Linked DNA regions of Homo sapiens: all the other regions are reported to be linked to region 5. The links are microRNA targets in miRTarBase. Many come from high-throughput screens and were not tested one by one. Region 5 holds a microRNA gene; each other region holds the end of a gene's coding sequence.
What was found. Region 5 holds the annotated microRNA hsa-miR-7-5p (UGGAAGACUAGUGAUUUUGUUGUU, at 3,156-3,179, shown strand). A microRNA usually pairs through its seed, bases 2 to 8, with sites in the 3' UTR of a target mRNA and lowers its output. Matches are read on the target gene's strand: a 7mer-m8 pairs with bases 2 to 8, a 7mer-A1 pairs with bases 2 to 7 and ends in A, and an 8mer does both.

Region 1: the mRNA of KRTAP11-1 is a reported target of hsa-miR-7-5p. Seed matches in the 3' UTR shown: 7mer-A1 at 761-767.
Region 2: miRTarBase lists SLC29A2 as a target of hsa-miR-7-5p. Seed matches in the 3' UTR shown: 7mer-A1 at 3,413-3,419.
Region 3: miRTarBase lists MRPL10 as a target of hsa-miR-7-5p. The part of its 3' UTR that is shown has no 7-base or 8-base seed match.
Region 4: the mRNA of SAMSN1 is a reported target of hsa-miR-7-5p. The part of its 3' UTR that is shown has no 7-base or 8-base seed match.
Region 6: miRTarBase lists ILF2 as a target of hsa-miR-7-5p. The part of its 3' UTR that is shown has no 7-base or 8-base seed match.

The regions. Positions count from the first base shown.
Region 1 is chr21:30,876,650-30,881,735 of GRCh38, reverse strand. KRTAP11-1 (keratin associated protein 11-1) reads left to right here and starts at 156. Exons shown (of 1, transcript NM_175858.3): 1 at 156-1,092. The coding sequence starts at 212. The coding sequence ends at 703.
Region 2 is chr11:66,359,401-66,364,486 of GRCh38, forward strand. SLC29A2 (solute carrier family 29 member 2) reads right to left here. Exons shown (of 12, transcript NM_001532.3): 11 at 4,825-5,024; 12 at 3,121-4,147. The coding sequence ends at 4,036. B4GAT1-DT (B4GAT1 divergent transcript) reads left to right here. Exons shown (of 2, transcript NR_135761.1): 2 at 3,869-4,364. Among named protein-coding and RNA genes, the nearest start is that of SLC29A2, 9.8 kb to the right of the region's middle.
Region 3 is chr17:47,819,952-47,824,951 of GRCh38, reverse strand. MRPL10 (mitochondrial ribosomal protein L10) reads left to right here. Exons shown (of 5, transcript NM_145255.4): 5 at 494-1,680. The coding sequence ends at 747. OSBPL7 (oxysterol binding protein like 7) reads left to right here and starts at 3,158. Exons shown (of 23, transcript NM_145798.3): 1 at 3,158-3,286; 2 at 4,587-4,748; 3 at 4,856-4,981. The coding sequence starts at 4,674. RefSeq lists an enhancer at 2,700-2,869 and a silencer at 2,980-3,195.
Region 4 is chr21:14,481,827-14,486,912 of GRCh38, reverse strand. It overlaps SAMSN1 (SAM domain, SH3 domain and nuclear localization signals 1), which reads left to right. Exons shown (of 8, transcript NM_022136.5): 8 at 799-1,685. The coding sequence ends at 1,001. The region is part of intron 1 of LOC124905053 (a long non-coding RNA gene); the gene reads right to left. Among named protein-coding and RNA genes, the nearest start is that of SAMSN1, 62 kb to the left of the region's middle.
Region 5 is chr15:88,608,701-88,613,786 of GRCh38, forward strand. It overlaps MIR7-2 (microRNA 7-2), which reads left to right and starts at 3,125; the gene lies at 3,125-3,234. It overlaps MIR3529 (microRNA 3529), which reads right to left and starts at 3,224; the gene lies at 3,147-3,224. It also overlaps a transcript of AEN not described here. RefSeq lists an enhancer at 4,334-5,018.
Region 6 is chr1:153,658,116-153,663,201 of GRCh38, forward strand. ILF2 (interleukin enhancer binding factor 2) reads right to left here. Exons shown (of 14, transcript NM_004515.4): 12 at 4,904-5,018; 13 at 4,590-4,680; 14 at 3,673-4,441. The coding sequence ends at 4,281. It overlaps SNAPIN (SNAP associated protein), which reads left to right and starts at 588. Exons shown (of 4, transcript NM_012437.6): 1 at 588-771; 2 at 1,023-1,069; 3 at 1,333-1,451; 4 at 3,085-3,737. The coding sequence starts at 629. The coding sequence ends at 3,186. RefSeq lists an enhancer at 354-433.

The DNA of each region.
Region 1 (5,086 bases), not on the chromosome of region 5:
CTTTATGAGGGTGAAGGCTTCTTAAGAGACAATTAATGTGTAGATTCACAAGATGTTCTAAGGCAAACTGGTCTGAGCCAAAGAAGCCACGGAGACCAGGGAGAGAGCCCCACCCACCAGCAAGGATATATAAAAGCTCAGGAGTCTGGAGTGACATTCACAACTCAGGAGGTAACTTCAGCAAGCTACCTGCAGCCCTCTGTCTGACATCATGTCCTTCAACTGCTCCACAAGAAATTGCTCTTCCAGGCCCATTGGAGGACGCTGCATTGTTCCAGTGGCCCAAGTTACCACGACTTCCACCACTGATGCTGACTGCCTGGGCGGCATCTGTTTGCCCAGTTCCTTCCAGACTGGCTCTTGGCTCCTGGACCACTGTCAAGAGACCTGCTGTGAGCCCACTGCTTGCCAGCCAACCTGTTACCGGCGAACTTCATGTGTCTCCAACCCTTGCCAGGTGACTTGCTCTCGACAAACTACCTGTATTTCCAACCCCTGCTCAACTACCTACAGCCGGCCGCTCACCTTTGTCTCTAGTGGATGTCAGCCCCTGGGAGGCATCTCCAGTGTCTGCCAACCAGTGGGCGGCATCTCTACTGTCTGCCAACCAGTGGGAGGAGTCTCTACTGTCTGCCAGCCAGCCTGTGGGGTCTCCAGGACGTATCAGCAGTCCTGCGTGTCCAGCTGCCGAAGAACCTGCTAAGTGTGTAGGAGCCAGTGAGCGAATCAAGACTCCACGACCTGCCAGCTGTTTCCAGGATCTTCCAGCATGCTGCTTGTCCCTGAATAGCTCTTCATAGCTGACCCTTCTTGTGACCGCCTGACTGCTGGCTACTATCCATGCACACGCTGTCTTTAGCACTCTAAAATTTTTCTGGCCAGCCCTAAGCTTGTTTTAAGGGTTGCTCACTGGTGCTGTGTATGCCTCTGGATGTGTCCAGAAGCTTTACCATCCACACCCCAGTCTCTGATGCTTTTGACATGTTTTCACCTTGCTGCTGTATCTCCTGGCCTCTGCTTTTGTGTCTCACAAAAACAGAGCTTGTCTCACCATGTATTTCTCAATAAACCTGCATTAGTTGGCATTGCAAATGTATGTCTCAGCAGAATTCTTTTTTAAACATTTCAACTTTTAATTTAGTTTTTGCGGGGTACATGTGCAGGTTTGCTACAGGGGTATACTGTGTGATGCTGAGGTTTGGGGTATGATTGAACCCATCTGTCAGGTATTGAACATAGTACCCAATAGGTAGTTTTCCAACCCTTTTCCTCTTCCTCACTCCCCGCTCTTCCAGTTGCCAGTGTCTATTGTTTTTATCTTTATGTCCACGTGTACCTAATGTTTAGCTCCTACTTATTAGTGAGAACAGGTGGTATTTAGTTTTCTCAACAGAGCTCCTTGTTTGCAAGAGTCTTTGCTGATCAGGGTCTGATTTTTTTTTTCCTGAGCCTAGAATATGGGCTTAATCATTATGCCCTGTGACCAAACCAAGGATTATCTTATATTTTACTTGTTCAGAGAGAGTCTTCAGCTGTGCGGTGAAGTAAGGGCTATGATTTTTCTTTTCTTTTCTTTCTTTCTTTTTCTTTTTCTTTTTTTTCTTTTTTTTGAGATGGAGTCTCACTCTGTCGCCCAGGCTGGAGTGCAGTGGCACGATCTTGGCTCACTGTAAACTCTGCCTACTGGGTTCAAGTGATTCTCCTGCCTCAGCCTCCAGAGTAGCTGGGATTACAGACGTTCACCACTACGCCCGGCTAATTTTTGTAGTTTTAGTAGAGACAGGTTTCACCACGTTGGCCAGGCTGGTTTTGAACTCCTGAGCTCAGGTGATCTGCCGCCTCGGCCTCCTAAAGTGCTGGGATTACAGGCCAGGGCTATGAGATTTCTAGGAGTAACTTGTCTTCTACGTCTCCTTCCATTTCTAGGGGCACATGGAATAACTTACATTTAGGAAAAAGAAAAGTTACCCAGAAAACCAGGTATTTCAGAAAGATGTGCAGGGAAGGGAGCAGTGGGATCACTGAGAAGTGCTGAGTCTTATTTAGTTAGAGGATCACAGTAGAAACCTTTGGAAAAGATTCCTCCATGATCAATCGGGATGGAAGGAGAAGGAGAAAGAAAGAGAAGGCACTTTTCAGGCCCTGAAATTAATCACATCAAAAGAGTGGCTCTAGCTTTATACCCACCTCACTCATGGTAGTGGATTAGTAGAATCTGCCAACGAGGGATACCAATTGACTGTTCGAGTCAGAGCCCTGAGAAAATTAAAGCTCTGTGTTTTAGTAAATCTGGGCAGGAGAGACTTAAAAAGAAGCTTAAAAACCTGTTGGCTTATATTAATACTTAGTCATACTTCTTGCTCGTTCTTCCCTGGAACTCGTGTACTAAATAAATCAAACCATCTGGATAGGTGGAGGTTGACATGCTAAGTCCTTTTGCCATTTTTTTTTTTTTTAAGGAAGTGAAGACTGGCTACCAACTGGTTTGCTTTTGCCCTTCTCATTTGTTCTGTCCAGAAAAACATCTTGATTTTCTTTTCAGAGTTGCTCAAGGAGATACAAAAGCAGATGATTTTTACACAAAATGGAGACATATGAGGTACACATGCCATCAACAATGGGTGTCTTTTTTCATAACAGAAATGCTGGTGTCTTGTGGAGAATTTGATCTCACTCTGTGTTGTCAGTGCAAAATGGATTTCTTATTTCTCTGATGGTTTTTCAGAGGTGAAATATATAGATTATTTCCATATAGATGCAATATTTTTAATTTTTCCCATTGATGGCTCTACTCTTAGGATTCCCCTAATTGGATTATGTTAGTATGCATGGCTCATGGTAATATCTCAACAAAGCAAGACATGGTTTTTAGTCTATATTAGTTTCATGCCCTCTCTTTTTAAAATAAGCACTCTGGCTTTTGGAAATGCTCTGATTTATTTTAAAATAGAAATCACTAGGGGAACTCTACATTGCCCTTTCAAAACTGTTATTACATGATTCTCATTTGTTGTTTATTTTAGTCACTTCACATATAATTTGGAAAATTCCCACTTTTTAAGAAGATGACAGATTAATTTTTTTTAACTTTCAGCTTTCTAGATTTCAATAAAAAATATAAAGACAGAGGTACCTTCTTTATCTTTTTATTTAGATGGTTACTTGGCTCTAATAGATAACATTTCTATATTAATAATATATAAGAACATAGCCTTTATGGTTAGATATGAGCAAGCTTTTGCCTGGGCTATTTATTGTGACAATGTGAACATTTAAGGCTGTGGTAGCTGTCTTGCAAAGCTATTTTCTTGCCTTCATTTCTGTTTTGGGAATCATCTTCTTTGCTATTAGAGCTATTCTATTTGTACTTGAACTTTGGAAGTTCTCTCCATTCTTTGCCTTATTACATAATAAATTGTAAAGTTTCAAAGTTTGTTTTTGAGAACAGTCCTTTAAAAGACAGGGCAGTGATGATTTCTTTCTCTTCATTTACAGCCTAGAAATGCAATTTGTATCCAATATCTCATAGCTCCAGGGAAGGAGCGTAACTTTTCCTGGTTCTGCCACTTGGATGCAGGTTTGTCGACGTTTCTGAGCCTTAGTTAGCTCATTTGTGTGTGAACCGGAGATAATGGTAGCATCTTACACCTTTGTTTTCAGGAGTAAATTGAGATAATACACATGTAACCCAAGTATCAGCTGAGCCATCCTGTCATTTAACATTGAAACAAAAATAGCTCTCTTATCTCCTTTTGCTGTTTGGTGGAAGTCTTGGCTGCTCCCAACATCTCCGAGGAATCTGAGAGTAGACAGGTTGGGGAAAGATGTCTAACTTTTTTCTTACCTTCTTGGGCTCTGAGCTTCTACTTGAGAAGAATTAGTTCATTTCATGAATTTTCTTCCTATGTTATGGTTGGCTTCTGTTTAGACTACCGTGATTCAGATATTTACACTTCCTTTCCATGATTTTCACTAAGATCCACTTACACAAGGCATTTGTGTTTCTAACACTTTATAGAAAGTTTGAGGACACAGAGAACATTTATACTCTAGTGATGATAACAACTTAAATCTAATTAAAATTTTTTTTATCATGGTAAAATATATATGTAGCATAAAAGTTGTCATTTTAAGTATTTTCAAGTGTACAATTCAGTGGCATTAAGTAAATTCACAATATCATGTCACTATTTCCAGAACTTTTCTCCATTCCAGACTGAAATCTCTTGGCCATTGTCTTCGGGACATTATCTCAATGTCCCAGCTCAAAATCAAATTTCTCCCTCTTTTTCTCCCTTCATTTCCTCCCTCCCTTCTTCCCTTCCTGCCACCTTCCCTCACCATCTCCTTTTGCTCTTTTCCCTCTTCATCTCCTTTCCTCCCTCTCTCCCTTCTGACTTTCTGTCAACAAACATTAGAATACCTCTAATGTTCCTGTTATCCCAGCACTTTGGGAGGCCAAGGCAGGTGGATCACGAAATCAGGAGATCGAGACCATCCTGGCCAACATAGTGAAACCCCGTCTCTACTAAAAATACAAAAAAATTAGCCAGGCGTGGTGGTGCTTGCCTGTAGTCCCAGCTACTCGAGAGGTTGAGGCGGGAGAATTGCTTGAACCTGGAGGCGGAGGTTGTAGTGAGCCGAGATTGCGCCACTGCACTCCAGCCTGGCGACAGAGCGAGAGTCTGTCTCAAAAAAAAAAATAAATAAATAAAATAAAATAAATAAATAAATAAATAAAGAATACCTCTAATGTTTCAACTTTCTATGCGAGGTGCTGGTTATGCAGTGGAAAACAAAGCCATTACTATTCCTGCTCTCCTGAAGCTCATAGTTGGGTTGTGAAGGACAAACTCACTGATTCTTCAATATCTTCTCCTATATGCTTTGCTCCCCTTAGGGCTTCACATTTTACTTCCAAATGCCTTACTTTTCTCCTCCAATGCATATAAAGGCTTACCAAGATGCTACATCATGCAAGTTATCAGTGAAGGATGGATGGATATTCTATCCTTTTACTTATATGTTGCTTGCTTATAATGAAACTATGTTGAAAGCTGAAAGTATAACCTACCTTTGGAATATC
Region 2 (5,086 bases), not on the chromosome of region 5:
ATCTGTAATCCCAGTTACTCAGGAGGCTGAGGAATAACTTGAACCCAGGAGGCGGAGGTGGCAGTGAGCCGAGATCGCACCTCTGCACTCAAGCCTGGGTGATGGAGCAAGACTCTTATCTCAAAAAAAATAAATAAATAAGGGGGAGTCTAGCCAGGTGACCTCAGTCAACAGTAGTTTGTTCAAGAAACCTTGAGAAGAAAGAAAGAGAGCAAGAAGAACAAGGATGCCACCTGGCTCCATCTAGGATATCATGATGACTCTAGTGACCACAAAGCAATTCCCCATTCTATTATGTTGTTGACCCTGCCTGTGACCTTGACCCTGCCTATGACCTATTCCTTCTAATGTGCCAGTAACCTCGAGACAACCCCCACTCATGTTGTGGCTTCATTCTCCCAAGAGAGATGATCTGATTGGTTCCTCTCATCAGGGAAGCTGGACCGGGCCACCTCATAGGCTGCTGGCCAGTCAGTGAGTGGCTGCCATTGCTCAGACCCCAGCCCTGGTCCAGTCAGCCCTGGCTAGAGATGCCATTCCCATACAAAGCAGGGCGTGAGGGTTAGGTAGGGGGGCCTCTGGGGCCACTCAAAAGGGGCCAAACTCTGACAACATGTGGCATGTTGAGGCAGGTGGAAAAGCAGATCACAAATGTCAAATGCTTTTCATGTAGTAGAATTCTTTTTTTTTTTTTTTTTTTGAGATGATCTTGCTCTGTCACCCAGGCTGGAGTGCAGTGGCGCAATCTCGGCTGACTGCAGCCTCCACCTTCCGGGTTCCAGTGATTCTCCTGCCTCAGCCTCCCAGGTAGCTGGGATTACAGGCGCCTGCCACCATTCCCGGCTGATTTCTGTATTTTTTTAGTATAGACCAGGTTTCACCATGTTGGCCAGGCTGGTCTCAAACTCCTGACCTCAAGTGATCCGCCCACCTTGGCCTCTCAAGGTGCTGGGATTACAGGTGTGAGCCACCATGCCTGGCCTCACGTAGTATAATTCTAACTACCAGTCTCCTCTTCCATAAAAGGGTCAGCAACTTGAGGGTAAGGATGTCTGTCTCCACTGAGCCCAGCTCAGTGCCCTGTGCAGTGCGAGTGTTTGCTGATGGAAACTGGCTGCTTCTGTGGGAATCCGGGCCTGTCGGCAGAGCTGTAACAGGGTGGGCAGGCAGCAGTAGCTGGGGACTAGGCATCAGGCGAGGGGCAGGCAGGTGTAGCCAACCAGTCCAAGAATTTGTTTCCAACATCAAAGCCCCTGCACCCTGAGCTGATGAAGTTGTGCTGGGTCTACTGGGAAGGAGGATGGGAAGACGGAATCCCAGGTTGTGACATCATGATCCTGAGGGGTAAGTGTCCTCTTTTTGGGCCCCATCCTCCACTGCCCAGCCCGAACCTGGGCTTGCTGTGGGTGACGGGTGGCCCCAGTGGGTTTCCTGGGACTGTCTGGCCTGGGAGGTGGGCAGGTGGGTGTCTGCCTTCCTGGTCCCAGGTGGATCTGGCAGGTCTAGGGAGCTTTTTTTTTTTTTTTCTTTGAGGCAGAATTTCGCTCCTATTGCCCAGGCTGGAATGCAGTGGCACGATCTCGGCTCACTGCAACCTCCGCCTCCCGGATTCAAGCGATTCTCCTGCCTCAGTCTCCCAAGTACTGGGATTACAGGCATGCGCCACTACGCCCGGCTAATTTTGTATTTTTAGTAGAGATGGGGTTTCTCCATGTTGGTCAGGCTGGTCTCAAACTCCCGACCTCAGGTGATCCACCTGCCTCAGCCTCCCAAAGTGCTGGGATTATGTGAGCCACCGCGCCTGGCTTCTAGGGAGCTTTTAGGTACAACGGACAACAGTTGTACTCTCCTCTGAAGGTAGAGGAGAAGGAGACTCAGCAAGTGTTGGGGTCCTGCCTCCAACAGTCCCAGAGAGCACAAGTAGGCCTATTGGTCTTGCAAGAGACTCCAAGACTCCAACAACCGTTTCCCTAATATCATCAGAGGTGGTACTTTAGTTCCAACCTCACTCCAGGACTCTAGCTCAGGCAGGTCATAAAGAAAAGGGCCTGGATTTGACCTAGGACTCTGGCTCAGCATGCATGCACTTATCCACGAGGTTAGCTGGCCTCCATAGAGGCAGTCTCCCTCATATCTCCTGTATCAGTCGTCCTCTCTAAGCCACTGTCTAGGCCCCATCACCTCCCCGCTGGACTGCTGGGATCAACTCCTCTGTGGCTTCTCTGCTTCTGCTCCTCCTCCACCTCAGACTAGCAAACTCATATTCATCCCTCAGGGCCCAGCTGGGGAAATACCTCCTCTGGAATGGCTGCCCTGACTTCTCAGGTGGAATCAGTGGCTCCCTCGACATGCTTCTGCAGGGCCCTCACAAGACGTATCACAAGTTATATTTGGCTTCCTGTGGCCTTGGGAGCGGGGACTGTGTCTCCTTTGTTTCAAAGTCTCCAGACCAGGCAGGGCCTGGCTCGGGGCAGCTGTCTGTGAACAGTGCTCAAAGGAATGAATCCTTCCTTGGGGTCTGCCCTGTGGCTTATTTCAGCAACCAAGGTCATATCTTGCCTGTCTTCCTCCTTGATGCCAAAAAGCCCCTGGCTTCTGAGCAGGTACCCTGTGCTGGCTGAGCACCTAATATCTAATAGGTGCTCAGTGAATGTTCACAAAGGCAGGTGGGCAGAAAACCCTTGCTTTTCTCTGGGACGGGCAGGGTAGTATAGGTGTGTGGTGAAGCAGGCCTTTCCTCCATCCGTGTGTAGAATTGGTGGGGTCGCCAAAGCCCTGCCCACACTGACTGCCTCTCTAAGGCCAGATTTCCAAGGAGGAGCTATCCTGGGGAGGCAGAGGATGCTGGTGAGAGCCCAGGGGCTCATGGAGTGGGAGAGCAATAGTTGTCCATCCAACTAGGTGCTCTGCCCAGGAGCTCAGGATTCCTTGCAGGTCAGTACCCCCCAGCTATCATGTGGTCCAGAGGACCCAGCACAGAGATGCCCACCAATCCCTACCCCTCTCAGGGCCTCAGTCATCCCACCTGTCAAGGGGGTACAATCTTTCCGACCCCACCCAGTTCACTGAGGCCAATAGAGCCAACAGCACTTCGGAAATAAAGACTTGGTGAACGCATCATACAAATAAATGGGGTTATTAGACCCAAGAGCAGGGTCAGAAGGAGAAACAGCAAAAACGGGGAGTAAGTGCCCAGGCTCCTGCCCCAAACCCCTTGAGGAAAAGAGAAACAGGTGTTGGGCAGGAAGAACAGCACCAACAGGGAGGAGAGAGAGGGGATTGGGTCCCGGCTCTACCACGGACCAGTCACTTTCCCCAGGACTCAGTTTTGTCACCTGTATAATGGGGGAAGCACAATCCTTGCCTGACTCCTTCCAAGAGCCTCAATTAGGCTTCGGTGAGAGAGTGGGTATGGAAGAGCTTTGCAAACTGTAAAGTGCAGTACACACATGCAGGCTAGCTGTGGCCCTGGGGCCCAGGCCCAGCTGGGCTCTGCGGAGTGGGTACAGTAAGTGTTGGCAATGAAAACACTGCTTGAGGCTGAGCCTGGCCCTTTGAGCACCCTCAGGTCCTCCACATCTGTTCCTCCTCTCAGGTGCCCACAACTTCCCTGGCACCTTTTACCCTGGGTGGCTGAGGCCTGGGAAGATGAGGCGCTCCTGGCCTGGGCTGGCCCCGCCTCCCACTCTGAACCCTCTGGTCACCTCTGCTCCTGATGATGATGAACAAATGCAGACCTGGTGGTGGGGAGCAGCCGTGCCCTGCACCCTCTTTTCCCTAGTCATCACCCTTTCCATGAGGTCTTGTGCGAGTCACCCCCATTCCTGGGTGAGGGTTAGAATGACCGGTGGTGATTTCTTCCCCACAGCACTCCAAGTGGATGAAGAGCAGCTCCTGCCCGCTGCTGGCAGCCTCAGGCCCAGGGGCCTCCACCCCGCAGAGGCCTGAGCCAAGCTCGCCATTCGCCCTGGGCTGGATCTCAGCTCCGGAAGGAGACGTCGAGAAGAGGCTGCCAAAGAGCCTGGAGGGGCCACTTCAGAGCAGCGCCTTGAAGAGGAAGGAGAGGGAGGCTCCACAGGAAAGTCCCAGGGCCAGGAAGAAGGTCATGAGGGCGCCGGCCACCTCCCTCTCGTGTGGCAGCACCTGCCTAGAACACCCGGGAACAGGAGCTCTTAGAAAATGCTGGGTCTAAATCTGGACCCAGCTCCACTGCCCTCTGCCCATCCAGTCTGGGCTCTGACCCAACCCCTCTGTCACCATAACTGGCCCCTTCTTTCCGGGCCTCAGTTTCCTGGTCTGTAAATGAGGCTGCTGGATAAGGATGTCTCTCAGGGCCTCTGAGTCTAACATGATGGGATTCCAGATTCCACAGCCTGCCCTTTCCACAGTGCTCTCAGCCTGTCTGCCCTGCCAGCTTCATTCTCTCTGGATTCTCCACTCCATTGCCCCTTGAGGAAATAGCCCATGACCTTGTTTTTGGTCAAAACCTTAGCTCTCCTTCAACTGAGAATTTTACAGTTAGATGGGCCCTGAGGGATGACAGTTCAACCCATTTTTTTTTACAGATGGGGAAACTGAGGCACATTGAGGCGGCCCCAGAACCAGTGCCTGGGCTACTTGGTTGGGCGGGTACCTCCCTAGCCCAGTTCTCTCCCCTGCAGTTAAGGCTTGGCCCAGTAGGGGGCGCCAGCAAGGCCTGCAGACAGCTAGGGTTGGGCTGGCCAGAAGCAGGATGGGCCGTCCCTCCATTGCAGGCGGTCCCTTCCCAAAGACTGAACCCACCTCCCTACTCCCAGCCCCCCACCCCACCCCATTGCCCCGGACCTGGGCGCCAGGCACATGGTGAGGGACACCAGGTAGCCATTAGAAACGGCAAAGAGCAGCATGAAGGTGATGAAGTAGGCATCCTGTGGGAAGAGGATGGGCAGCCGGGACCTCTGGGGCACGTGGCACAGCATGAAGAGGGGCACGAACAGGAACCGCAGGCAGACCAGCAGGGGCAGCAGCCGGCTGTCCTCGTCTGGCTGTGGTAGAAGCTGAAGTCAGCATGGTCCCTGGAGCCAGGTCTCTGCTCCAGGGCATCTCA
Region 3 (5,000 bases), not on the chromosome of region 5:
ACCTCTACCTCCCGGGTTCAAACGATTCTCCTGCCTCAGCCTCCCGAGTGGCTTGGATTACAGGCGCTCGCCACCATGCCTGGCTAATTTTTGTATTTTTAGTAGAGACGGGGTTTCTCCATGTTGGCCAGGCTGGTCTTGAACTCCTGACCTCAGGTGATCTGCCTGCCTCAGCCTCCCAAAGTGCTGGGATTACAGGCATGAGCCACCACACCTGGCTGCCTGATTCTTATTTACAAGGAAGTTTAGGAAACACTGACTTAATAGGGGTCAGGGCCAGGTGGATATATTAAGAGTTTTCTGAGGGAAGAGTGAAGAAGTAGGGATCGATCCCAAGCAGAGTGGGTGTGGTGTGGGGCACAGTGGAACCCAGGTCCTGGGGAAGGCAGGATTTTGAGAAGGGCAATGGAGAGCAAGTTACTAGGGTCAGAATATTGTTTTCAGAGAAGAAAGGCAATCTGCAAGGAGCCTAACTGACCCTGTGTTCTTCCAGGTGGCTGCATTGATGACACCATCCTCAGCAGGCAGGGCTTTATCAACTACTCCAAGCTCCCCAGCCTGCCCCTGGTGCAGGGGGAGCTTGTAGGAGGCCTCACCTGCCTCACAGCCCAGACCCACTCCCTGCTCCAGCACCAGCCCCTCCAGCTGACCACCCTGTTGGACCAGTACATCAGAGAGCAACGCGAGAAGGATTCTGTCATGTCGGCCAATGGGAAGCCAGATCCTGACACTGTTCCGGACTCGTAGCCAGCCTGTTTAGCCAGCCCTGCGCATAAATACACTCTGCGTTATTGGCTGTGCTCTCCTCAATGGGACATGTGGAAGAACTTGGGGTCGGGGAGTGTGTTTGTCACTTGGTTTTCACTAGTAATGATATTGTCAGGTATAGGGCCACTTGGAGATGCAGAGGATTCCATTTCAGATGTCAGTCACCGGCTTCGTCCTTAGTTTTCCCAACTTGGGACGTGATAGGAGCAAAGTCTCTCCATTCTCCAGGTCCAAGGCAGAGATCCTGAAAAGATAGGGCTATTGTCCCCTGCCTCCTTGGTCACTGCCTCTTGCTGCACGGGCTCCTGAGCCCACCCCCTTGGGGCACAACCTGCCACTGCCACAGTAGCTCAACCAAGCAGTTGTGCTGAGAATGGCACCTGGTGAGAGCCTGCTGTGTGCCAGGCTTTGTGCTGAGTGCTGTACATGTATTAGTTCCTTTACTGCTGACCACATTGTACCCATTTCACAGAGAAGGAGCAGAGAAATTAAGTGGCTTGCTCAAGGTCATGCAGTTAGTAAGTGGCAGAACAGGGACTTGAACCAAGCCCTCTGCTCTGAAGACCGCGTCCTGAATTTCTTCACTAGAGCTTCCTCATCAGGTTACCCAGAAGTGGGTCCCATCCACCATCCAGGTGTGCTTGGATGTTAGTTCTCCACCCTCGAGGTGTACGCTGTGAAAAGTTTGGGAGCACTGCTTTATAATAAAATGAAATATATTCTACTTCCTTTATTTTGTGGTTTACACGGTTGTCCTCCCTCTAAACTTACTCTCAGGGGCTTCTCTGTCATCTGACTTTCCTCACTCTTGCTTCCCTTCCTAGGAAAATCCTCTTCCCCTATACCTGTTCCCACAAATGGCATCCCGCGCATGCTTGCCCTATTAAAGGCAGCTGACAGCTGTACCCACTAGCTAACGTGTCTCTGGTGGTTCTGGACAAAAGGCCTGCGGGAAAACTAGGATTCTCTATTAATGGGGAATTCTGAGAGCTCTAGGGTAGGAGGCCTCATGCAAGTCTTCATGAACCAGAAATTCCTAATAAAGGAGACGGGATGCTTAACTCAGAGTCCACCATCATCCTTGACTGGAGCACATTCTGGGTGGATGCAGGGGTGACCCGGGGAAGGTGGCTGTTCAACATTCCTTCTCGGACTTGAAGCAATGCCACCGCTTCCTTAGTCTTGGACAGGCACTGTCTGGCAGGGATGACCTGCAGCAGCTCTTTTGTGGCCTGGGCCAGGACCAGCTTCCCCCAGTGCCTCATCCTGTGCTGTATGCCCAGGGATGTTCAATCACTGGGAAGTGGCTTAAAAGGCCCTTGAGGCTCCTGGATGCCAGAGCTTGTCTGGTCAGTGCTGCCCAGTGCTCCTGTCCCTCCCAGAACCCTGCCAGGTGCTAACAACACCCTCCTCCTGGGGTGGCTGGAGCAGCACTGAGGCTCTGAATAAAGGCAAGACAGTGGGTGTTCCCGAGAGATATGTGAGACCCTGAAACGTAAACCAAGCTCGGTGAGGATGAAGTGGAAGGGATAAGTGGCCCATGTCACTTTTGGGGTCAGAGAAGAAACTTGAATCACATCCTTCACCTGAGGCCCCACCTACTTCTTTCCAGAAAACTTAGCTGCGCTTGAAACTGTAGGTCTATGCCACATTCATTTGAATGAATTTTAGATCTTTGTTAAGAGCCGATTTTTCATTAGAATTGAGCAGCTGGGCACAGTACTCCAGCAGAAGGGTAAAGGGAAGGGAGGGGACCAGCATTGCAGCCCTTTTAACGGCAGCTGTGACTGCCCCAGGCCTGCTCCTGATCAGAGACTGCAGGCTGTGGGGTGTCTTCATACACACAAGCACTTTCAGATCTCCATGGGGCCTGACCTAGTGGGGCATCACCCCAGTGAAGGGCCTCAGTGTGGGGACTGCTGGCTGTCCCTTTCCTGGCTTGACTGCCCCTGCTGACTGTGCTCTTGGCACTCTCTTATGGTCCCAGAGGGGGCATCTGTCCCTCCACCATCAACCTGATACTTTTGCTGGCTCCAAATTTTGCAGTCTATTTTCAGATGTAAAATGAGAGGCGGGGGGCGGGGGTTAATTAGGAATTGGCCTTGGGTACTAACAGGGTCACTGCCATGCTAGTCTGAATAAATCCTTTATCACCACTGGCGTACAGCCAACAGTTCCCCAGTCCTCTGATCTATCTGGAACCATGCCCAGCAGGGACTGTGCCCCCACTCCCAAGCCACATCGATGCTAGGGCAGTCTGCTCAGCCCTGAGTCCTCCGGGGAGCAGGGGGGCAGAGCTGAGCGGCTGCCCGGAGCTTGGCGGGAGGAGGGGACAGGGGAGAGGGAGGTGGGGAGATCCGGCTAGAGGGGAGGCTCTGACATCTCCTTCCTTCCTGGTTCCTGCAGCAGCTGCTGCCACTGCTCAGCGCGGTGAGGAGGGAGCCGGTGACTCGGAGACGGTGACTCAGAGGCAGAGCGGCGCAAGGGCCAAGGAGTACTGGCGTCCATGGACCCTGGGGTAAGGGGGCTGCGTGGCAGCAGCTGACATTCCTGAGAAGAGCTTCCTCCCACCTGAAGCTGGTGGGTCTGCTCCTGAATAGAGGTGGAGAGGGGGCACCCACCTGGCTCACCTAGACCCTTCACCTGCCTACCGATAGAGCCTCCCCCTCTACCCACAAGCAGTGAGGGGCCAGGATCCCCACAGGGCCGGGAGAAGGGCCCAGAGATACCTGAACACCGGAAGAGTTTGAGAACTTTCAATGGCTGAATGCAGGAGTTTCCTCCCAGGTCAGCCTCTTGCAGCAAGGGTCCCTCTGCCCCAACCTCCTGGGCACCCGTTCCTGCCACATCCCTGTCCCCTCTGGGCCTCAGTTCCTCAGGTGCTTGCTAGCTCCATTAGAAGATCTGGGCTGCTTCCCCCACCTCAAACCAGCCTCGCCCCTCCAGTCCCCTCCCCCGTCTCACACATGCAGAGCCTCATGCATTATTGATCTCCCGGTGGAGCCAGGATGGCCAGGGCCAGTGCCAAGGGTGCCTGTGGGCACTGCTGCAGGACCTGTGCAGACCTGGGCATGTCCTGGGCCCCCTCTTCTCTCATGAAGTATCTCCTTTAGCCCAATGTCCTGCCCTCTCTGGGTGGGTGGCACTTCTCAGAGCCCCAAGGACTGTGAGGGTAGACAGGGGATGGTGAGGCTTTAGGGGGTACTGAGGGTCCAAAAAGGGCATCCTAGGGGCATGTTTGGTGGGAGGAGACATGGGAAAATGGGGGCTATCTCAGGCCTCAGTTTCTCCAAGCACTAGATAATATGGAGATTAATTGGTGGGAGGCTGGGGAGTTTTCTGCAAGATCATGGCAGAGAAGTCTCTGAGCTACGGTGGCAGGGTGGAGGGGTCCTGAAGGCAGAGGCAGCTGGATTGAGGAGGTCTCGCTTGTCCAGTCTCTGAACCCCTCTGTCTCTTCTTGGAGCCTCTTCTGTCACTCCCTTGCTTCACCTCTGAGCACTCCCAGGGAAGCCTCTAAAGAAAGCACTGAATGTTTCTTGGAGCCCCAGAGTATGTGCCCAAGGCGGGGCTGGGCATATGTCTTGTGGTTTTCCCTGGGCACCTGCCCGTCTGCTGTGTGCTAGTTCACTCTCAGGGCAGTGTCCATATCAGGTGAAAATGGGTGGGGTCGGGACAGAGGGGCAGACTTGGGAGAGGCTTGGCAGGTGAGCAGAGGGTATGTTGGGGAGCCCTTATCTCAGAGGGTGTGGGAGGGGCTGGAGGTGGGGAAGGTGATAGCAGAGTTTGCGTTAAGGGGGTCTTTCTCTTGCTTCAAGGACCCCGTCAGGAGCAGGTGACATCCTTCCCCTTCCACCCTGCTCCCTGCTCTACATCCCCAGCAGGGAGTGGCCTCTCCCTTCTCCATGGACTTCCAAGAGAGGGACCCGCCCTTCCTGCCTGAGAGCGCTCAGTCCTCAAAGCCCAGCAGTGCTCAGCAGGTCAGAGAGTGGGAAAGCGGTGGTGGGTGGGCCAAGCTGGAACCAGACAGGGAGGGGCCAAGGCGGACGTCTCACCAGTGCTCCCCTCCCTCTGTCCTGGACTGCAGGCCTCTGAGCTGTGGGAGGTGGTGGAGGAGCCTCGGGTCAGGCTGGGGACAGAGGGTGTCATGCCTGAGAGGCAGGAAGGTCACCTGCTCAAGAAGAGGAAGTGGCCTCTGAAGGGCTGGCACAAGGTAGGGTGGGCAGGCAAAG
Region 4 (5,086 bases), not on the chromosome of region 5:
AAATATATTTTGTTATATCCCTAATAGTAATCTTTTTCTAAAAGATAATGCCTGTTGAATATAGAACACTGCTTTAAGAATGCAGAATTATCAATCTGAAAATAAATGATTATTCTTCAGGACTACAGACAAAGATATGGAAGACTAAATATTCATAAAGTAGATTCAGTGGAAATTTTGGTGTTTTACTTTCTAAAAGCAACCTGGTTTCTTATGCCTATTTTGTGATACATGCAAACATAGGAAAATTCTGGATATTTAAAGTTTTATTAGTTAACTTCCAAATAATTGAAGTCCTACTGTACATTCTTACTTATAGTGATAATTTATTAATTAATCTAGATTATCATGAATCTAAAATTGTTCACAAAGATCACTATTGACTTGGATTGTGCATTTAAACTATAAATGCCTTTTTCTAATGATACTTTAAGGAGTATTTGGACAAGGCATCAGTCACACTGTGGATACAATCTGCTTTCTCTGGCAACTTATTATTAATGTAAAATGAGAGTCCATATTGATCTTTGCTGATGCGGGAAGTTCACATGAATTCCATGAAACTGCAAATGAACAATGAAGGGCAAATTTTGGCTTCTAATAAAACAGTAGCTTGAATATTTGGGTGCAAATATCTCTTTTGTAATAAACAAAGATACCTTTTACTTGCAGAACTTTCCATTGTAATGAAGTCATGGTTAGAACAGTTAAAATAGGATAATACTTGAAAGTGAATGAGTACATGAATAAGATTTTGTGTTGCTTTACCTAACTCCTGCCCTTTTTTTCCATTTACAGTTATTCAAGAGCAAGAAAATGAACCTGAGCCCCTATCCTTGAGCTCAGACATCTCCTTAAATAAGTCACAGTTAGATGACTGCCCAAGGGACTCTGGTTGCTATATCTCATCAGGAAATTCAGATAATGGCAAAGAGGATCTGGAGTCTGAAAATCTGTCTGACATGGTACATAAGATTATTATCACAGAGCCAAGTGACTGAACACGCATTCCCAACTATATATCTACAGATGCATTCCATTTTAACTCTTCTTGAGCTAAAACGTCAAATAGGAGAGGAAGATAAGATAAATATTTGTAAATAAAACCTAAAGTTTAAATGTTTTAATCTGAATAATTGTACATAAAATTTTGTATCTCTAACATTCCAAATTACTGTCAATAAAATATATATTTATTATTTTAAATGCTATGTGTTAATATTTCACTTGCTTGTATTAGAAAGGCAAAATGTAAGACTTTGGTATGTGTGACATATGCTTTATTTGGCTTTATTTTACAAGTACAGTATCTGCAAAAAACAAAGTAACCTTTTTTCATACCTGCCAGTTTTGAATTTATATATGTTATTGAACAAATAGTAATAGAGGATTCGCTGTTGAAACAAGTTGTCCAAGCAATGTTATATTCATTTTTATACTTATTGGGAAAGTGTGAGTTAATATTGGACACATTTTATCCTGATCCACAGTGGAGTTTTAGTAATTATATTTTGTTGATTTCTTCATTTTGTTTTCTGGTATAAAAGTAGAGATAATGTGTAGTCACTTCTGATTTAGTGAAACCAATTGTAATAATTGTGGAAATGTTTTGTCTTTAAGTGTAAATATTTTAAAATTTGACATACCCTAATGTTAATAATAAAAAGAACTATTTGCATATTGCATTTTCCAGAGTAATGTTACTTAAGGGTTTTAATATTGGACTTTAGAGAAAATATCTCCTCCCAGACACCCCTCACTTTTTGTAATATAAGTGCATCCCATAGCAATAATCTCAACCTCCTCAAACTCATCTGTCCCCTGAACCCCAGTGATGTTTATCTGACTCACTTGATACCCTCAGGAAACTTCAATTCAACATAACCAAACCATCGATTTTCTCTACAAATTTGTTTCTGCTTTTTTATTGCCAACTCCTCTTTACTGCTACTATCACCCAGCCAGTCATCAAAGCAGAAAATCACTTCTTGCTTCATCTCACATATATCCTCCTCATACAAATTCAATAAGTAATCAAGCCCTATGGATCCTACCTCTACAAATGCTTTCATATTCATGGCCTTCTATCCATTTCCATGGTTGTTGTCTTGCTTTGGATCCTCATGATCTCATGCACGGAAAATGGCAGTAGCTTTCCAACTGACCCCCTACCTTCTCATCCATCCTCCACACAGCCTCCAGATAAATCTTTCTAATCCATGAATCAAATCAGGTACTTTTCTGCTTGAAAGTTTTGGAGGGCTTCTCATTGTCTTTAGTATAATATCCAAACTTCCTTCCAGGCTGCATAAGGTCTTCCCCAATTGCTTTTTACCTACCTTATGAATTGTAACTACCCCCTCACCACCACCACCATACACACACACCTCTCAATCTACACTCCAGCCATAACAATATACTTGCAATTTTCTTCCCTTTGTGACTTTCCATATGCTATTTATTTTCCTGGAGTGTCTCCTGCTATTTTCCACATTAGGAAGTCTCCCTCTTTCCTCCATCCTAAAGGTCACTTACTCTGTGAAGCCTTCCATGATTCCCTTTGGTGCTCTCTTCTTTGTGTTTCCATAGCAACTTGTAAATTGTGGTTCATAGCACTTGTCATATTATGCTTTATATATTTGTATGACAATTGCCCTTCCGTAAGACTGTGACCTCCTTGTGACAGAGATTATTTTGTTTAGCCTTTTTAATCTCTGGTGCCTAACATAATACCTGGCACACAGTGGGCACTTAGGAAATATTTGCTAGAGGGCATTGAATATGATGATTATTCCTATATAACAGATTCCATCTTCCTATTTAAATTGATCCATTCAATTTATATAGGTACTGTAGGTAAGTACCTTCCAAAGTGACCTATTTTTTTTTTAACCAATAAAACGTAATACCTTAGGAAAAAACAGGAAACACAAAGTGTTATTTCAAATGCTGGAGGACAACATTACACTGCTAACGTCCGGCATATTTTTCCAGACCCCTGAGATTTAACCGCATATGCAGTGCCCAGGTGAGGCTAAAGCACATGTCTACCTCTATTCTTCCCCCTTCACAGCATGAAATGGTGTTTCATTTCAGTTTTCCAAGGTGCTGCCTCCATCATGACCCCACTCTTGCTACAGCTACCACTCCAAATCGATTATTCTGGGGCCTCCTTAAACACAGCAGTCACTAACCATGATTTTAAAACTTTAATCACCTGCTGCCTCAGGGAGATCAAGACAGGATAGCTTCTTTATGGAGATGCCAGGAAATTGTAAGTTGGGGAGCAACTAACAAACTACTTGACTTTAAAACGGTGGCAATCGCCCATGACGCATACTCAGCCACAACTTCAATCACTTAAAAATGAAGGTCTGGTACCCAGTCAAGGATTTAGGGAAATGCTTTTGAGGGGAAGTGCTGCAGAGCCCTTGAGGAGATTGAAGCACAGGAAGAGAGATTGGATTCCTAAAAAGAGGAGACACCATGAGGCTCAAGTGGTCAGGAGGAAGGCCTCATCACGGAGTTCCGCACTAAAAAGGACACAAGAATAGCGGACGTATACTCCACATTAAGGGAGGGCTGCTGTCCTCACCTTACCCACAGCTCCTTACGGATCCTCTGCAGCTCTCGCCTCAGCTCCCTCAACGTGGGGCAGGGAACATCAACAGAAGGAAGACAGGTTTTTCTCTTGGCCATGGAAAGCTGAATAAAGAGCAGCGGAAAGATAAGAAACGGCTCATCCAAGGTTGGGAGGTAGCTGAGGAACTTGGACCTTCTGCTGCTTTTGGCTGAGTGAGAGACATGAGTCCAAGCCTTTTAAGATGGCTAAAGGATTAACATTATAATAATTACAAGATCATGATACTGGCTTTGTGTTTCTAGGTTGAACCCTGACGACATTTCCCAGTCTCATATGTTTATTTATTCACTCAGCAATATTTAAAGTTGGAACATGTATGCTGTCCAAGACTATGCCAACAAAGGTCTTTTTAACTATATAACCGCATGAGAATCATAGCATAGCTTCTCTCATTGGAACCCACTGAGTCTTTCATATATACACAGATCAGAATATACCGTTATTCTGATCCCAGAGATTCCGTATCTTTGTAAATTCAAGTATGTTGTGACAATATGCATGGTTAGAGGAATTTTATTCCAGATAAATAAATAAAATCCTCATAGTAATTTTTTGATGAATACAAAAATCAGATCATTTAAATTCTGAGTTCCCCTTGTAATGTACAGATGAATATATCTACATTCTGAAGTATTTCATTATAATCTTTTCTCTTTTAATCAATTAAATTGCCAAGGGAGTTAGTTCAGAAATAAAATAACTTTTAAAATTTCAAAATGATAGGCAGCTAAAGATTATCAGGATTTCAGAAAACGTACAATTTACTGAGGTTACAGTCAAGTGCCCTGCAACTTCCTGAATGAGGCCAAATTGATGACATTTCATGTTGAGAAACTTCCGTTACAAGCAGAAGTTCTGAGAAAAATAATAGGAAGAAATTTTAGATACTCCATCACCTCACACACGCACGCACTTCCATCCTCCCCACAACCATCAAAAAACTTGAATAATTTGCATACAGACTTCAAGTACTCTTTCATAAAGTGGGAAGTCACGCTACAATCACGTAAAGGTTGAGAGCAAAACGAATAGGGACTAAATGTAGGTAAAAGAACAGCAGCTTCTAAACTTGACCAGGTTTTTTGGCTATGGAAATGAGATAAAAGCAACCCTCTTTTTATGTTACCTCCTATTTAACTGCCGAATTTCTCTGATCACACCCAATGTTCACCTAAACATAGAGACTGGAGGAGATCATGGAGTTGAAGCATCTGGTTTGAGAATTGTGTGACTGGGCAGGTCATTTATCCTCTAAGCTTAGTCTTTTTTTTTTAATCTACAAAATGTTGTCAATTAAATGAGATAATGTGTGTAAAGCACACAGCACGACGCATGTAGTATGTGCATAAAAACAACTACTGCTATTATATCCACTACTTCATTTTTATTCATTGATGTCTGGACATTCAGTGGAAGCAGTGCACATGCTGCCACAATGCAGGC
Region 5 (5,086 bases):
TGTTTTTCCACTTTCATTCTTCAGAGCTGCGCTTTTGGCCTGAATTTTCAGTGACAAATAGAAAAGCTGAATGGATGGAGACAATGACTCTTTAATTCAATGTAAGAGCTGACTCATCGCTTCCCAGGAAGACTTGTTGCAGGTAGGTGATGGTTATCCTGGAACTGGAGATTATCCCAGTCCTTTGTTGCACTGGCAATGGGCAGGTCTGTTTATTTTTCTCTTTTTTCCTGCACCAAATAGTCCTACTCAGGGATGCTGGCATTGGTCCCCACTTCCCTAAAAGAGGGGAAGTCAAAGTTCTTTCCCTTTCAGGACAGAAACTCTCTGATAACAGCCCGGAAGAAGTCTTAATGTGAGTACAGACCACTTCAGTCAGTCTTTTTTTGGTTCTTGGCAGGAGGGGATACTGGGAATGGATAGATGCCTGATCATCACGGTGCTATCAAGAGCCATATTCTTTATTGGCCCCATCTGTGCCAGAGTTCAGCGGTACCATGAGCCCTAGTGCTAGACTATTAGCCCTTCAATATTAGGAGCTATGTCTTGTACCCCTTTGATTCCCTCAAACTCAGTTGTGCTTAAAGTAGGGCTGAACAAATGTTTGAACTAAATCCTACTGGCTAGTATTAAGACAAATAGCTTATCTTCTTCTTTATGAGAATGGTAGCTCTAGACCTGGACCCTCCCCCTCCAAATCAAAAGCTTCATATTCCCTAGCCCTCTTCACAAAAGATAAATTAAGGCTCAGTTAATTGTTACCATGGTAACATGGAGTGGCCACATTGAGGATCCCCATCATCCATTACTGTCATGAGGTAAAAGAGAGGAGGGGTTTGGGATCATTGTCATGGAGGAAACCATGGAAACAAGCGTTGCTAAGGGAACAGCTCTAAATTCAGAGGAAAGAAATTAGAAGTGGGGAGTGGAAGTTGGTGGGCTCAAGGGCAGGTCATTTTTTCAAAATATATTTCTTTGAGACTACAGCAGCCTCTTTTATTGCTTGCATCTTCTCCCAATTCAGATAGAGCCCAGAATTAAAGAATTTTGAAAACTAGGGCCACAATCAGTTCAAATTCATCTTCATTGGATCTGTAAGGAAAAAGCCAATGAAAATGGATTTACCCTGTTCACACCTCACAATCCTACTCTGTCTCTGAACTCTGCTTCTTTGCCAACCAGTTTCATTTATCACGGGCCAGGCTGTGCGCGAGGCACTTGGAAGAATAATGAGTGAGAGTCCCTGCTCTCATAGTGAGCTTCTAGCAGGGCAGTGGTTTGGGTGGTGGCTTTAGGGCCAGGGTTGCTCATGTAAGCTAGATCAGTCAGTCCTGCAAGCTGACATCCAGAGAGATGCTGTGGTTCTCTCCAAACTCTCTTTGTGGTGCATTTTAGCTTGTCTATTACTTCTCAAAGTTTATTTGCCAGGTCCCTAAGAAAGGCCTGTTTTTCCTAGAAATACCTAGGGTGCTAAGCTCTCCTATTAACCAAGGGGTTACCTTAGTTAGCATTGTTCTCTAATGGTACCCTCAGGTCCTTGTCTCTAAAACAATTCAAGGTTGAAGGACTAACCCTCCTCTCAACAGTGGCAAAGAGGCACGGGGCTATTTTTTTTTTTTTTTTGTAAAAGAAATTAAAGACCACACATCCATCTCTGTTTCTTGATAGATTAAAGGATGGGGAAAGGAGGTCTCAGTTTTCTACAGCTGGGAATTTCAGAGCCAGCACCTCACTGCGGGGTAGACTGAAGAGGGTCATAAAGAGCCTCTGGGGGAGGAACACCTCTCCCTTACATCTTCCACAAAAGAACTTCTTGGTTTTTCTCAGACCCATGGCAGAGATGTGCCCTGTCTCAGGCTGACAGCTGGAAGGGGCTGGGACTCAGAGCTAGGTATTGCCAGTCTTCTCCATGACTCCCCCCACTCCTCCTGCTCCTGAGCGTCTCCATCACCAGGCAAGCCCCCACCCCCATTCTGGATAGAGAGAATAAACCCAAGGATGGAAGGGTGGGCTAAAGAGGAAGTGCTCACAATTAAAAAGAGAAAGAATTAAAAGCAGCACCAATAGGGAAGGGTAATTATCCTTCAGTTGCTGCAGAAATACAATTAGGGCCATGCTCTCTGAGCCGCCAGGATATTGTGGCTTTTGCTAATTAAGGAGCGGATGTGTCCTGCCAGCGCAATTAGAGGCTGGCCCAGGCAGCAGGGGCTTTGCCTCTCCTCCACCAGTGCCACACTGCAAGGGAAATTAACCAGGGAGCCCAGCGCTGTGCCTGCAGGGAGGGGATGACTGGGCCAGGATTCCACCAGCCTCCTGTCCACAACCATTTCCCCTTTTCCTCTTCCTGCTCTGCTTACCCCAGCACCACCACTCTGACTTCATTCTGAAGCTTCCAGGGCTCAGTAACCACAGGAAGAATTTTCACCATGGGCCATGCCCATAGGCTTCCAGAAGGGGGAGGCACCAGTAGAGAGGGGTCACCATTTCCAAGCTCTAGTTTCTCTTCTGCATGGTGGTTCAATGCTTTATGATTAGTAAAGGAAAGAGAGAAATGAGCCACTTGCCTGCTTCTCTTTAAAAATAATTCCCCTGTTTGTAAAGGAAATATGCTCAAATTGGGTGCAGTGGCTCACGTCTATAATCCCAGCACTTTGAGAGGCTGAGGCAGGAGGATCACTTGAGCCCAGGAGTTCAAGACCAGCCTGGGCAATATACTGAGACCTTGTCTTTACTAAAAAAAAAAAAAAAAAAAAAAAAATTAGCTGTAGTCTCAGCTACTAGGGAGGCTGAGGTGGAAGAATCACTTGAACACTCGAGTCTGGAAGGTTGAAGCTGGAGTGAGCTGTGATTGCACCACTGCACTACAGCCTGGGTGACAGAGCAAGACCCTGTCTCACCAAAACAAAACAAAACAACTGTGTCCATTATAGAAAGTAGAACACTCCAGAAAAAAGGGAAAAGTAAGAAAAAATAATTTCTCCAGGGAATTCTGAGGTGAGGAGAGGTGTTCAAAGATGAACTTAGTAATAGGAGCGGAGACAACGCCTCGCCTGAAGGAGCATCCAGACCGCTGACCTGGTGGCGAGGGGAGGGGGGTGGTCCTCGAACGCCTTGCAGAACTGGCCTGGATACAGAGTGGACCGGCTGGCCCCATCTGGAAGACTAGTGATTTTGTTGTTGTCTTACTGCGCTCAACAACAAATCCCAGTCTACCTAATGGTGCCAGCCATCGCAGCGGGGTGCAGGAAATGGGGGCAGCCCCCCTTTTTGGCTATCCTTCCACGTGTTCTTTTTTGTATCTTTTGTGTTTCCTAGAAAACATCTCAGGTCACCACCCTAAACACCCATCGGCAGACTCTTCCAGAAACATGGACAAACTATGGTGTGAGCAGGGAAGTGGGGCAGGGTCTCTGTTTTCAGGGAGCAGTGGACTGCTTCCATACCACTACCTGAAGGGCAGGGGGAGAAAAACCCTCCTTAATTACTAATTCCCCCAACAATCACTTTGGGGCACCTATAATGGAGGCACCTTGTGACTCCACATCCTGGGGCTCAGGGCCTCATTGTCTGTGGCCCGACAGCCACAGTGTATGCGGGCACCGAGAGGTATGCACTGGAGACCGAGGTTCCCGGATGTTCAGTGTACCTGGCAGCAGGGGGGACACACCTGACCTCGGAGCTTGTCTGGTGCCTGCTCCACAGCTGAGGGAGTGGACTTGTGTGTATGGAATTTCTTGGTCCCAGTACCTGCCTCTGTGCTGCTACATCCAGAGGTGTGGCCAAGGGAAAAAAGCCCAGTGCTTGGGGACCATCCCCCACTGTGGCAGGAATACAATTAGAATTAGTGATCAGAAAAAGCATTTCCCAGCCTTTTATTTATTTATTTATTTATTTATTTATTTATTTATTTATTTATTTTTGAGACAGAGTCTCACTCTGTCCCAGGCTGGAGTGCAGTGGTACAGTCCTGACTCACTGCAACCTCCACCTCCTGGGTTCAAGTGATTCTTGTGCCTCAGCCTCCCGACTAGCTGGGATTACAGGTGAATGCCACCAACTCAGCTAATTTTTTGTATTTTTGGTAGAGAGAGGGGTTTGCTATGTTGGTCAGGCTGGTCTCGAACTCGTGACGTCAGGGGATCTGCCCACCTCGGTCTCCCAAAGTGCTGGGAGTATAGGCATCAGCCACCTTGCCTGGCCTCCCAGCCTTTCTGCCTGGGATCCCTCTGCCTGGGGGGTACCTTGCCCTAAGGTGAGCACCAAGTTACAGTGATGACACTTTCAGTGGAGATTAATTTTCAAGCAACAAATCCAAATGCCCTCCCTATTCCTAAGTATATTCCCACCCTCCTCCATCCATACAGCAGAGGAGACTAAAGCATATTACAAACTAAAGTTGGGGGTTGGGGATCGTACTCATTTAGGGAATGCTAAAAATGCAACCATTAGCTGAGCTCATTCTACCTCTTCCGGTTGCTAGCTGTGTGACCTCTGGCAAGGCACTTGACCTCTCTGAACCAAGTCAGCCCTTCACTTCTACCCAGAGACTTTGGCTGCCTCTGCTTCTGCTGCTCCCTATCCTACAAACTGGCTCTCTTCTTCTGCACTTCCAGTCTTAAATTTCCCTTTACTCCTAACCCTGCCTGAAGCCAGTGGGAAGCCAGTCCTATTAGAAATCTCATTTACACTTCAGAAGTCTGCAAATTGGTGTCACTCAGCAGGTATCTGTCCTTCACAGCGGGAGAGAAGCCCAGATTGGGCAGGAAGGGCAGAGCTGGAGAACAGGAGAGGAGGGGAGTTGAGTCTCTCCTGGGCAGCCCTCAGCCTCTGGGGCTGGTTTGGAGATGGAACGGGGAGAGATTGTGTCTCAGTGAAACAAGCATCTCGGGGGGGGATGTGGGGTGCATTCCTGATTTGAGGGATGGATATGACAGCCTTTGTTAAGTGGTGGGGGGAGTCCTGGCTCTGAAGTCAAACATGTGCCAGTTTCAATCTTGGCTCCACTGCTTACGAGCTGTGTGACTTTGAGTCAGTCACTTAACATCTCTGAGTCTCAGATTCCTCAACTGTGAAACAGAATTGATCA
Region 6 (5,086 bases), not on the chromosome of region 5:
CAGAGAGAGACCTTGTCTTAAAAACAACCAACCACAATAAACTCTTTAGAAATAGAAAACGATACTATGAATATAATGTGGCTTTCTCATAAAGTGTTTTTGTTTTTGGTTTGTTTTTGTTTGGTTTGGGTTGCTTTTTTTTTTTTTTTTTTTTTTTTTGAGGCGGAGTCTCTCTGTTGCCCAGACTGGAGTGCAGTGGCGCGATCTCGGCTCACTGCAATCTCCGCCTCCCGGGTTCAAGCGGTTCTCCTGCCTCAGTCTCCCAAGTAGCTGGGTGCCCGCCACCATGCCCGGCTATCTCATAAAGTTAACATGGGAAGGCTATGGACAACTGCAGGTATTCGCGTTTATTTTCACCTTTAAAGAAAACGAAAAGTATCCACTCCAAAAACTGGTTCCTTTCTACAACCTGAACTTTGGAGATTTTCAAGACCAGCCACAAGGCCTCTACTCCTACGGCCTGGCCCTCCTCCCCGCCCGGTTCGCGCTAGACTCCATTTCCCAGAAACCCCGGTGTCTTGGTGGAGACAGCATTTCCCGGGCGCCCCCTCACGGGGCGGGGCAGTGCGGCGCGGCTCCGGTTCCCGGCGGCCCTCGCGGCAGGTTTCGGGCTTCAGGACAATTCGTGATGGCGGGGGCTGGTTCCGCCGCTGTATCGGGGGCAGGGACCCCGGTGGCGGGGCCCACAGGCCGCGACCTTTTCGCCGAAGGGCTGCTGGAGTTCCTGCGACCCGCTGTGCAGCAGCTCGACTCTCACGTACACGCCGTCAGGTGCCCGGGAGGGAAGTTGGGGGCGGGGCCTGTCTCTCTGGCTTTGTAGGGGCGGGGCCAAGAAAGTGTTCTGGCTGGGAGTGGGCATAAATTTAGGAAACTGATTCGAGGCGGGGAGGACAGGCGGGAAGGCCGCAGGTGGAGGGTTCAGCGGAGGCCGGCTTCTCTCAGTACTTGGTAAATACGTAGGGGAGTTCGTTTCCTGAGCTCCGGTAACTGCCTGACCTTGTAGGCCTTGTACCTCTTTGCAGAGAGAGCCAGGTAGAGCTCCGGGAACAAATTGACAACCTAGCCACAGGTGAGTGAGCATCCCTGTGTACCCGGAATTCTTCAGCCCACTTTCAGGACCTTAGGTTTTTGCCAACCCCTGGGCTGAGTTTCTGTCACTTGCTTCCAGGGCATCAGGGCTGCCAAAGGACTCCTCCTTTCAGGGATGTCTTAAATCTCTAATGGCTGTGGCCCGTTTGGGTGCAAGTGTTTTCCATCCCATTACCAGCCTGCTTTCCCTCAGAACAAGAGATAAGCCGTTAGATCTTAGCTGCACCTTACTTCCATCCCCAGAACTGTGCCGCATAAATGAGGATCAGAAGGTGGCCCTGGATCTTGACCCCTATGTTAAGAAGCTACTTAATGCCCGGCGACGCGTTGTCTTGGTTAACAACATTCTACAGAATGCTCAGGTAAAAGAATATCTTACCAACAGTGATTCTTTGCCCTTTTTTGTAAGTCCTCAACACAGTGAAAGCCACTGTAATTTTAAAATTCTTTGGGGAAAGGGAAATTCACTTCTCCCAGTACTTGAAAAATACCTAGGAAAATTCGTCTCATTCTCACTATTCAGTTGCTGCCATTTACATTCTTGTGTGTGTGTGTGTGACAGTCTCCCTCTGTCACCCAGGCTGGAGTGCGGTGGCTCAATCTCAGCTCGCTGCAACCTCCGCCCCCTGGGCTCAAGCAATTCTGCCTCCGCCTCCCGAGTAACTAGGACTACAAGCGTGCACAACGCCCAGCTAATTTTTGTATTTTTTTGTAGAAGTAGGGTTTCTCCATGTTGCCCAGGCTGGTCTGGAACTCCTGGGCTCAAGTGAGCTTCCCACCTTGGCCACCCGAAGTGCTGAGACTACAGGAGTGAACCACCACACCTGGCTATTTATTTTTATGATACAAGGTCTATCACCCAGGATGGAGTGCAGTGGCATGATAAAGGCTCACTGCAGCCTCTACCTCCCAGGCTCAAGCGATCCATCCACCTCAGCCTCCCAAGTAGCTGGGACTACAGGCATGCACCACCATGTCCAGCTAATTTTTGTATTTTTTCTAGAGACAGGGTTTCACCATGTTACCCAGGCTGGTCCCAAACTCCTGCATGCGAGTGATCCACCTGCCTGGGCCTCCCAAAACGCTGGGATTACAGGCGTGAGCCACTGCACCCGGCCTGCCTGGCCTTTTTTTTTTTTTTTTTAAATAAAAAGACAGGATCGGCTGGGCGCGGTGGCTCTTGCCTGTAATCCCAGCAGTTTGGGAGGCCGAGGTGGACAGGTCACCTGAGGTTGGGAGTTGGAGACCAGCCTGACCAACATAGAGAAACCCCGTCTCTACTAAAAATACAAAATTAGCTGGGCGTGGTAGCGCATGCCTGTAATCCCAGCTACTTGGGAGGCTGAGACAGAAGAATCACTTGAGCCCGGGGGACGGAGGTTGCGGTGAGCTGAGATCGCACCATTGCACTTCAGCCTGGGCAACAAGAGCGAAACTCCGTCTCGGGAAAAAAAAAAAAAAAAAAAAAAGACAGGCTATCACTATGGTGCCCAGGCTGTTCTCAAACTGGGCTCAAGTGATCTTCCTGCCACTTCCTCCTAAATGGTGCTGGGATAGGCATGAGCACCATGCCTGGCCTACATTTTTTTTTTTTTTTGAGATGGAGTTCTCCCTCTGTCACCCAGGCTAGAGTGCAGTGGCACGATCTCATTTCATTGCAACCTCCACCTCCCGGTTTCAAGCGATTCTCCTGCCTCAGATTACAAGCACCCGCCACCATGCCCAGCTAATTTTTTTGTATTTTTTAGTAGAGACGGGTTTTACCATGTTGGTCAGGCTGGTCTTGAACTCCTGACCTCAGGTAATCCACCCGCCTCAGCCTCCCAAAGTGCTGGGATTACAAGTGTGAGCCACCATGCCCGGCCTACATTCTTATATATACTTTTGAAGACTGACTTTGAGGTAGATCACGCCCGGTATTTTTCAGCACCTAGTTCACTTACACTCTCAAGCCTTTCACAGTGGTTAAGATTCCAAACCTTCCTTGTCTTGTAGGAACGACTGAGACGGCTAAACCACAGTGTTGCCAAGGAAACAGCCCGCAGGAGAGCAATGCTGGATTCGGGAATTTACCCCCCTGGCTCCCCAGGCAAATAACAGATGAGCCTATGGACTCAGTAGCACAAGTACTGTTCCCCAGCTGCCTTGTTTCAACAGACATGCAAAGATCCTAGGAGACAGTCCCCATAGACCTTCAGACATTAAAAAGGGAGCCGTACAGTTTGTTTGAAGCACTTCGTCTTACCCATTTATGTAGGGGCCCCAGGAAACCTACACACAGCCAGAATGAGGTTCCCAAAGGACTTACATTAATTATGGCTCTTGCTTCCTTTCACAAATGAGCTGAGGCCTCTACTTTTTTTTTTAAGCTGCATACGTGAGGCTTACCTTCTTCAGGACTAGTTAACCAGAGGGGCTTCCTTTGTATGTTACATGCCTGGTTACATGGGCCTGGACAGCATGTCCTCTACCTGTGACTTCTCATTTTCCTGTTTACACTGGGGATTTGGAGGGGGCAGGCAAAGTCAAAGTGAATGACCTCTGTCCACCCACTTTTTTATTGCACTGGCTTGAATACAGTAGCAGTGTTGATAGAATCATTTTATTCAATAAATACTTAAAATGATATTCTAGTTTACTCTGGTATATGGAAAGGTTCCAGGAGTTTGTCCTTTAATTCAAAGACAGCTTCAAATTGTGATCTGAGTATTTATAATTAAATGACTCAATTATCATTTTCAACAAAAGAGTACACAAAGCCAAAAGCAAAAAAGGTTGCCACATGCAAAAAAACAAACAAACAAAAAACACCAACCAGAAAGACCAAGAGCCCTACTAGGAAGTACTTTAATAGTTTTTCTTAGAAAAAAAAATTTCCAGACACTTAACATTTCACAACATTTCAACAGCAAAGTATTAGTTGAGAGAGGGGTTTTCAGGAGTTGGAGATTATAGAATATTAGGAAGAAATGTTGGTATCCTCCATTATAGATGGATGGCATAGGTCACAAATGGGAGACTGGCAGCTAAGCCAATATCAAAACCCAGTGGAATGACACTTCTATGGAGTTTACTTTTCTTCCTGCTATCTTCCCTATCCCACGGAAATGTCTGTCACCATGTAAAGCCCAGTAGCAGGCAGCTTAGGCTCCAGTCTTCCCCCTTGGGTAGGAAAAGGAGTGAAGGGAATGTCACTCCTGAGTTTCCATGCTTTCTTCTTCCTCTCCTTGAGGTGGTTCTTCTGTATTCTCCTCTTCTTCCTCTCCTTCCTTCTTCTCTGGTGGCTTCTCATAAGCCTTTTCTGAAGGTGTTACTATCACTCCATCCCAGGTAGATATTTCAGAAGCAAGATCTAGGAAAGAGAAAAAGGTGATTTAGACGAGTAGCCCAGCATAAAAGTCATTACTTACACTGTGGAAATATTAAAGACATTTAAGTAGTGTACAGCTTCTCTGTACCAGATTACAATACAAAACCCCTGACCCACAGTGGTCACTCACAGCTGGCATCACCCTCCTGGCCAAGGATCTTCCTAAAGCCACCATGTGAGAGGATTCGGACGAGAGTCTGAGCTGTATAGCAGACCATGTCCTGAAGGAAAGCAAAGTGAGAGTAAGCAAGGAAAATCAAAGGACCTTATTTGAGTAATACCCTTCTGAAAACAGAGATTAAGACAGCTTTTTAAATCTCAGGACCAAAGTCTTTCAGAATCCCCAAATTCCTGACCCGTAAAGACCATATTCCGCTTTGCCTGCTGAGCAGCAGTATTCAAAAGAGTGGGGCAAAACAACTCAGTTCATATCTGTCCCAATACCTGCTGTTCTAGGGTCATGACTGTGTGTACTCTAAAGTTGCCACTCTCACAGGGGTCAGTGATACCCACTGAACCTGGCAGGAACAGTCCTGCAGCCAGAATCTGCAAGCAGCGCCTAGAACACAGGGAGGTATGAGGTATTAAAGGAATGCACAAAATAGTTTACAACCAACCCTAAACCCA